Regions from separate parts of the Homo sapiens genome. Here all the other regions are linked to region 1. Evidence: fine-mapped expression QTL. A gene starts in region 1. Each other region holds a variant in brackets. All regions are shown on one strand. Distances are between the middles of the regions.

Region 1 (2,773 bases):
AACTGATCTAACCTTGTTGGAGAGGGTTGGAGGAGATAATTTTATAAGAATAAAGTTTTGCAAACTCTTCACTGTAAGAAGATCACGGAGGTGAGAGGATGAAGATGAAGAAGATGGAGAGGGTAAAGACTGTGATTTCAAAAAGGTTAACTGGGAAAAGAATTAACAACCCTCCCCCAACCTCAATTGTTTTTAGAATGTAGAAACAGAATCTGTTAACCCTCGCTTTTGCTCCCTCTTCATTCAAGACAATGGAAACTTCTTCGGATACCTGGGCTAAGTTAATGGTAATTTACCATACTGAGTTGACAGAATTTAATTTTGCCAGTATAAATAATGTCTCCAAAGCAAAATTGCCTCCTTTGTTCCCCAAACAATTTCAGATTCCAGTCTCAACTTTGGACTGAACAAAAAGAACGATACCACGCAAAATCTCCCCAAAGTGTGTTGATATATATCGGCTAGCGTTTGTTTATTCACATAAAACTCAATTTCATCAAACTCATCAGACACAGTGAGTATCACCCCAGATCACACATGTGGCGCTCTTTCCTCCCATCCTGGCCTCAACGACTCAAGTAAAACATTCAGGATCAGCCCTTTAAGACCATTCTGGCTCTATCCCACCCCACCATAACAGACAATGCTGAGCATGCATTACAGATACTCTTGTGCACGAATGCATATGTGTGCATTTATAATCGATGTGTTCATTAAAAATCCTCACTCTGTCCCTGGTTGGCAGAGCCACCCCAGCGGGCTTACGTGCTGCGGTTGTCCGGGGTGTTCCGCAATAGGGATAAGGAACACATGGTTGTTTCCAGAGAATCAGAAAGTCACCCCCTGCAGTGAATACCCACTCTTAGAGAAAGAGCCTGTCCAACTGTCCGCGGCTCTTCACTCTTCCCCGCCTCGTTCCTGAGGTTATTTTTTAATGACCTCTCCCCTCCCCCGCCGCCCCGGGTGCAGTAGACAGGCAGGGGCTCCCGTGAGCCCCGGCTGCGGTGCGCGCACGCTGCGGCGGCGTTGGCGCAGAACTGGGCCAGCCAGTCGTGCTCACCCCCGCGTCCCGAGCTGGGCTGCTGGCGGCTCTCAGAGGCGCTTGGGCTCCGGGCTGGGCTCCTGCAGCTTCTCGGGGCCGGCCCCCTCCAGGCACAGGTCCTGCAGCAGCCGCTCCCCGCACCCCACCAGCCTGGCGGCAGCGGCAGCAGCTACAGCCGCACTACCCCTCTTCATACTTCTCTGATGGCTCCTTTTAGTGCTGTTTGGGAAAACGATTTTTTCTCCCTGCCAGAAACAGATTTCCTACATTTCATCAGTCCTCATAGACCGAGCGGAAGTAAAATGCTTACTTTTTTTGGTGGACGCAAATGCAGTTGACACTGATTTACCCTTCAAACGGGGAGAGATTGTATTACAAGCCCTTGGCAGCAATTCCGAGGTTGGGGCCAAGCTCCAGCCCCCTCCTTGTCCCCCAGACACTAACCTAAGAGAGAAAAGGTGGGGGCTGGGGAGGGGATCATATTTAACTCTAGAGGTTTAACAGAGTCAATAGCTTTAGCACAATATTAAAATTGGGTGTTGGAAAAGTTTTTGCTTTCCTGGCCAGTGATTTTGCAGACGGAGGCACGAGCTTTCCAGTAACTTCGGCCACTCTTCATTCCAAATTGAACATTTTGATGTCTTACAATTCTCTTTAAATATCAGATTTTTAGAAGAGGCTGTACTCACGGCTGTTTTTGCTTTACCAAAGGAAATACAATTCCACCCTTCCTTCTTTCAGCCTCAGCTCAGCATTATGTTGAATGTCAGAGACAATTGTCTCCAACTGTTGTTTATTAGTACGTGTATTCTGAGATGAAACGTCTTCCATGAAGTGGACAGATGTTCAAGTGTCTGATTCACCTCTAATGCGCGGGGACCGCTTGCTGAGTGTGCTGATCCCCACAGGTTACCACCTCCCATGGAGCATAAATAAAATGTATTACACTTTTTATTTTGTTTTGTTCTCATGTTCATCAGTTTCATGTATATTGCCATCCAATGTTTACAATGGCAGTGGTACAGGTATTGTGATCCTTGCTTGGATACCATTTTTATAATGATGAGTTACCTAGCCCCACTCCCAAATAGAAACTACCTGTACATCCACAAGCTAAATGATGTGGATGATTTTAGATATAATTTAAAAAATATTCACATTTCACCTTTATTATTGCCATTATCTGGCAGAAACTGCATCAGTTATTTGCTTCTAGTGGCAATACATTTAATAAAGAAGAAGAGAAAACCGATTGAAAAGTTTGGAGTCCTTGAACTCCGAACTTTTTATTTTAGTTCAATTTGCTTTTGCAGCTATCAGGTCCACATTTCCTCCTTAGCTTTCTAAAAGAAGGGAAAAATAGTTATTCTTAATTTTAAGGAGAAACAGCATTTTTAAAAGGTCAACATAACAGCTTGGATAAACATAAATAACAACAAAACATACAGAACTCATTACTGATGAGTTTTAGTAAACGAATCTGAATGATAAAATTTCTTAAAATGTGATCAGATCTGAGTATTCCTAGAGCCCCAACAAAGAATTTTGAGTGTCTGAACACATACAATTTAGTAAAAAATCAAATGTTCTTGATAATTTTTCCTGATCAAAACATCATCAGCCAATAAATGCTAATTTAAGAATTATCCAAATATGTAATGAGTTCAAAAAATTTAGCACCTTGAACTTTCAAAATCTTACATCCTATTTCTCCCCAGATATGAATATTCT
Region 2 (2,773 bases), 160 kb before region 1:
ATTATCTGCAATCAAGTGGGCTTCATCAATTTAATTTCTTCTCTTTGAGTAAATGAAGATTCAGACTTTGTAATATTATTGCCCTTAAGTGCAATGCTAAAAAAACGTTGATTTTCAAGCTTAGAGAATGGCTAGACTTTTCATTAAATACTGATTTTCCTACATTTGCTCTTCTGCAGTTAGTGGGTGATTTGCTATTTTTCTTAGTAGTTAAAAAATGGAACTAAATAGTGAATATACATACACTGCATGTAAACATTCTGCATATACCTCTAAGATTAAAATTCGCAGTTGTCTTTTCATCCTTTATAAAATGATCTAACTACTTATATTTGTGCTGCATCGCGTTACATCTGTTTTTATTTCACTATGAAGATGTTTGATTAAACTTATGGACTTAGTGCCTTTAAACTGATCATCAGGGAGAATCTTGAAAAAATCATTTGAAGGGCTGATGTGAAGGAGCACTGTAAATTTTTATAACTTAGTAATGAGTATTCTTAGGCAGATGTAAAATTTTTTCCAATTTATTTTTATTTATGTAGCTTATAAAATTAACATACCCTGTTTTACTTTATGATAAAGGATTTTTTGTTTGCTGAATTTAAAATTATATATTAGTGATACCATCAGAGGGCAGTGATGTTCTATTGTATATTAAATTCAGCTCTGTAAGGATCTTTGTAGTAATTGAATGAGTTAAACTAATAATCTGGATGGGTTATAATGAGTAGTAATATATTTGTCCATATTTCATAAGTAGTGTTAATCTTGTGTACTTATTAGAGAACGATCATAAGATTTATACAGATGTGAAACTGCGAAGGCAAGTATGAATGTATGAAAAAAACATGTAGGTACTGTACTTACAAAAGGTCTACTTCAGATATAAAAATATTAGGTAATTCTATACAATGCATAGTCATAAACCTTAACATTTTTGTTCATTAGAAACATGAATTTTATAGCATTTTTTGTTTCTCCTATATAATACACTGAAATAAAAGAATTTGTGTTAGCTATTAAGGCTGATAGCTCTTTTAAATGGCAAGGCCACATGTTGAGCCCTAAATTAAAATTTGCAGATATTAAGTGCTAATAGAAATTTTAAGTTAAATCGACCAAGTTCACTTGCTTTACACAAAGGAAACTGAGCCACTATCTTCATCTACCCCTCCAACAAAAATTATGTTATACTGCAGTGTATTGTACATGTTAATTTTTAAAAGTTTGAACTATTATATAATACAGGTCTCTTGACTTCTCATGGAAAAATTATTTTTTCTATTATGGTGTGAAATATTGTGTGAATATCTAGGCAAAACATAACAATTTGGCTCAATTTTCTTCTTTAGAGGATTCGTGCTGTTTTTGTTCATAAAGGGTAGTGAAATCATTGAACTATATTTTAGAATGAAAATTTTTGATTTTATTAAAATGATTTTTTCAAGGCAGAAAGTAAAAGGAA[T/A]GATTGATAGCGGAGTGCATATAGAGCTAGAGCATATCATCCTTGAACTCTGCAAATCCTTTCTTCCATTTTAATATAGCAAGAACAATTTTGTCTTTACTACATCTTAAAGAATTAGAACTTGGGTTGGTGTAAGTGACTTACTTCCAGGGAATCATGCCCTATTTCTACCAGCAGGTCATACCCAAATGTCACACTATCTATTGTTAACCATGAATGATATTCAGATCTATTACTTTTCGTGAAAAGTGGAACATGTTACTTCCAACCATGGCCTGTCACCGTGAGTGTGATCAGCTTTCTCCAAAACCACATGGGTCGCAGGAGCTAAGGGGTGGTACCCAAATGTTAGGAACAGTGTTAGGAAAGGGCAAGGGAAAAGAAGTGACTGGATGTCTTATGAGAAACCGGTAAATGACTAAAAAAAAAAGCAAATGACTAAAAACATGACTAAAAAATTATATATATATATAATATATATATTATATATGTGTGTATATATATACACATAATATCTGCAAATTCTAATTTATATATGTGTGTGTATATACACACACACACATGCACATACACACATACGTCCAGACATCTCCCTCATAAAATAACCATCAGTTTCTATGAAAACCTTAAGTGGAAGCCAATTTCCCATAGTAAATAATTTAGGAGAAAATTATAATGCTTAAAATGTTGCTCAAACCCCTGACCTATTACTAAACTATAATTGGAACAGTAAAATGCATATATGTAACTATCATATCATGATTTAAAATTGCTTAAACCATTGCTGCTTAATACTAATCAAACTTAACGGCTGCTAACAAAAGTTGTGAATTATTACACGGCCTCTTTGTAACGTGCTGCATGTTTTTTAAAACATCTCTGTGTTTCTGTTTGTTCCACTGCTGGTATTTGGAATGTAATTTAACAGTTCTCACACATGGTTTGGTTATAAATTCTGTATTGCCTTTTAGGGATATAAATATACATTTTTTTCTATGTAAAAATTAGCTTTAGCTGTCTCTTTAACAAAATTTTATCTTTACTACATCCTAAATACTTAGAACCTGAGTTGGTGGTTAGGGAAACCTCAGGAACATTTTAATCACATTGGGATTCAGAAGAGCAACAGAACCAAAGGTTGTTTGGTGTGTTCATACAATCCCTGGATTTATAGGTGGATTTTCTATAAAGGAAAAATGATGTAATTAGTATCCTGTTTTTTCCTAAAGAAATAATACTATCATAAAAATTCTGTCTATCCTTTGTACCCCAGGAAAATGGACATGAACTTTGAATTTTCCCTTT
Region 3 (2,773 bases), 61 kb after region 1:
TCTCTATGTCCAAACTGCCAGAATTATTAGTTCAAATATATTCAGAATGTGTCTGCATCATCTCTGTTGCTAAACCCCTTGTCTGAGCCACCATCATCTTTTACCTGGATTCCTGCAATAGCTTTTTTCTTTCTTTAATAGGCTTTATTTTTTAAGAAGTTTTAGATTCACAGCAAAACTGAGCATATGGTGTAGAGATTCCCTCAACCCTTCTCCCCATACATGCATAGACTCCTCCATTACCAACATTCCCACCAAAATTGTATGTTTATTAAAATTAATGAACCTATAGTGACATGTCACTGAAAGACCATAGTTTACATTGGGGTTCACTCTTGGTGTTACACATTCTATGGGTTTAGACTAATATATAATATTATATATCCACCATTATAGTAGCATAGAGACTAGTTTCACTGTGCTAAAAATTATTTGTGCTCTGCCTATTCATTCCTTCCTCCCCATTTACCATTGAAACCACTGTCTGCCCATTCATTCCTCTCTCCCTATTTATCATTGAAACCACTGATCTTTTTACTGTCTCTGTAGTTTTCCCTTTTCCAGATTGTCATATAGTTGGAATCCTACAGTATGTATCCTTTTCAAATTGGCCTTGTTGACTTAGTAATATATATGTAAGGGTCCTCCATGTCTTTTCATGGCTTTATAGCTCATTTCTTTTTAGTGCTAAATAATATTCCATTGTCTGGATGTGCCATAGTTTATCCATGCACCTGCTGAGGGACATCTTGGTTGCTCCTAAGTTTTGTCAGTCATAAATAAAGTTTTCATAAACCTCTATGTGTGAGTGTTTGTGTGAATACATGTTTTCAACTCCTTTCGGTAAATACCAAGGAAAGTGATGCTGGATTCTGCTGTGAGAGTGTGTTTAGTTTTGTAAGACACTGCTAAACTGTCTTCCAAAGTGGCTGTACCATTTTGCATTCCTACCAGCAATGAATGCGAGTTTCTGTTGCTTCACATCCTTTCCAGCATTTGGTGTTGTCAGTGTTCTGAACTTCAGCCATTCTAATAGGTATATAATAGTATCTCATTGTTTTAATTTGTGGTAGGTAGTAGCTTTTTAATCAGGTCTTCCTGACTGCATTGGGGTCTGTCTACCATCCATTCTGAACAATGCAGTTAGAGTAGTTTAAAATATAAGACAGATCATGTTATTCCTCTTCTTAAAATACTGCATTGACATCTCCTTTTATCAAGTCCTTCTAATGGCCTACAAGGCTTTATATAATCAGCATTTTCTCTCTTACCCCTCTGCCTTTTCTCTTACTCTTCCCCCAACTCCCTCTGCCCTAGCTACACTGCCCTCCTTGCTGCTCTTAGAAAACACCAGATATGGCCCTGCCTCATTGCTGTTCTCTCTGCCTGTGAAACTTTTTACCATTACCTGTTTAGCTAACTTTCTTACGTACTTCAAATCTTTGCTCAACTTTCACCTCGTTGAGTCTTATTCTGACTACTCTGTTTAATACAGCAACTTTCCCCACTACCAGAGACCCT[G/A]CCCACTTTTGCCCCATCCCCATTAATGATCCTCCTTGTACTGTTCCATTCTTTCTTGTTTCCATAGAAATGTTCATCATTACGTACAAATTTACTATTTCCTTGTTTATTTATTTATTTTTTACTGCCTTCTCTCTATAGAATATAAACTCCTCAAAAAGAGGGTACTTAGTCTGTTTTGTTTGGTCTTATATCCAAAGAGTAGAGAACAGTTTTTAGCACAAAGTGAAAGCTCAGAAAGTATTTGTTAAATAGATATATGAAAGAATGAAGTAGTTTTTATAGAGTCACTTTTATGATTTCAGTCACTTACTCAAAACCCTTTAGTGGCTTCTCATTCCACTTTAAATAAAGGCAATTTTCCTTTCTTTCCTTGCCTTACAAGATTAAAAGTATACTCTGCTTCTCTATACACGTTTATTTGCTCATCTCTTGTCATTCTCCTTTCCATATACTCCAAAAACATGGAAATTCTTTCAGTTTTTGAAATAAACAGTTTTTTTTCTGTTCTAGCACTTGTGCTTACATTATTCCTTCAGTCAATAATGTTCTCATTCAGGTCTTTCACCTCTCAGCTTAATTTTATCTTCTCACCATAACATCTCTGTCTAAATATATTTCATCCCGATATTTTTCTTCAGGCAGCCCATTCTCTATTAATTACAGTTTTCCTGTTCATTTGTGTCTGCCTTTTTCACTGGGCTATAAGCTGAGGGAGGGCAAGTATGCCTCTCTTTTGCTAACTATTGAACATCTAAGACCCTCATACTATGACTGACATACATTAAGTAGCTTATGTATAGTAATGAAGTAGAAATTTGATGACAGCATCATCCTCTGTGTCATATCGCTAAGAAACATAAGTCATTTTGGTAGTGGCTACAAAGAGTGTAAACTCACACAAGAAGAGTGGGGGTCCCAATATAGGGTAACGTATTCATGCTACCACCCAACAATCTGAAAAATCTTCCAAAGCTTCTTTGTTGCATTTGAGTTGGATCAACAGGATTTATCGATGTCATGATTTAGTTGCTGTGGTTAAATTTCCATTTTTTTCTTGATCTTTGTAGCTCTTTTATACATATTTAAAGCTCTGAAACAATATACCAAAGCTCTGAAGTAGAAACCAATTATAAATAGAATGGCCCATCTTCCCTAGGAAATTGTGAATATAGGGTATTCATTATTAAAATAAATTAATTAATGTAAATGCCCCAGGAAGGAACCATTGATTTCTCTCAGGAATAAATTG

Which allele goes with the higher level. Positions count from the first base shown, and alleles are read on the strand shown. Sizes are in standard deviations (SD) of each study's normalised expression. Not every link is listed here.
In carriers of allele A in region 2, the expression in tibial nerve of the gene that starts at base 1,349 in region 1 tends to be higher than with T alone (small effect, 0.18 SD a copy in GTEx).

The links. PIP is the estimated chance that this variant, and not a neighbour inherited with it, causes the effect. A credible set is the group of variants that fine-mapping cannot tell apart.
Region 2: its variant is the best candidate, but not a certain one, in a credible set for the expression of GAS2 in tibial nerve (GTEx, PIP 0.59).
Region 3: its variant is the best candidate, but not a certain one, in a credible set for the expression of GAS2 in whole blood (TOPMed, PIP 0.65).

The regions. Positions count from the first base shown.
Region 1 is chr11:22,665,187-22,667,959 of GRCh38, reverse strand. It overlaps GAS2 (growth arrest specific 2), which reads right to left and starts at 1,349. Exons shown (of 8, transcript NM_001143830.3): 1 at 1,061-1,349. RefSeq lists a silencer at 1,110-1,269.
Region 2 is chr11:22,820,305-22,823,077 of GRCh38, reverse strand. It overlaps SVIP (small VCP interacting protein), which reads left to right. Exons shown (of 4, transcript NM_148893.3): 4 at 1-2,773. Among named protein-coding and RNA genes, the nearest start is that of LINC02718, 7.7 kb to the left of the region's middle. The variant T/A (reference allele first, on the strand shown) is at 1,469.
Region 3 is chr11:22,604,237-22,607,009 of GRCh38, reverse strand. No RefSeq gene overlaps it. Among named protein-coding and RNA genes, the nearest start is that of FANCF, 20 kb to the left of the region's middle. The variant G/A (reference allele first, on the strand shown) is at 1,522.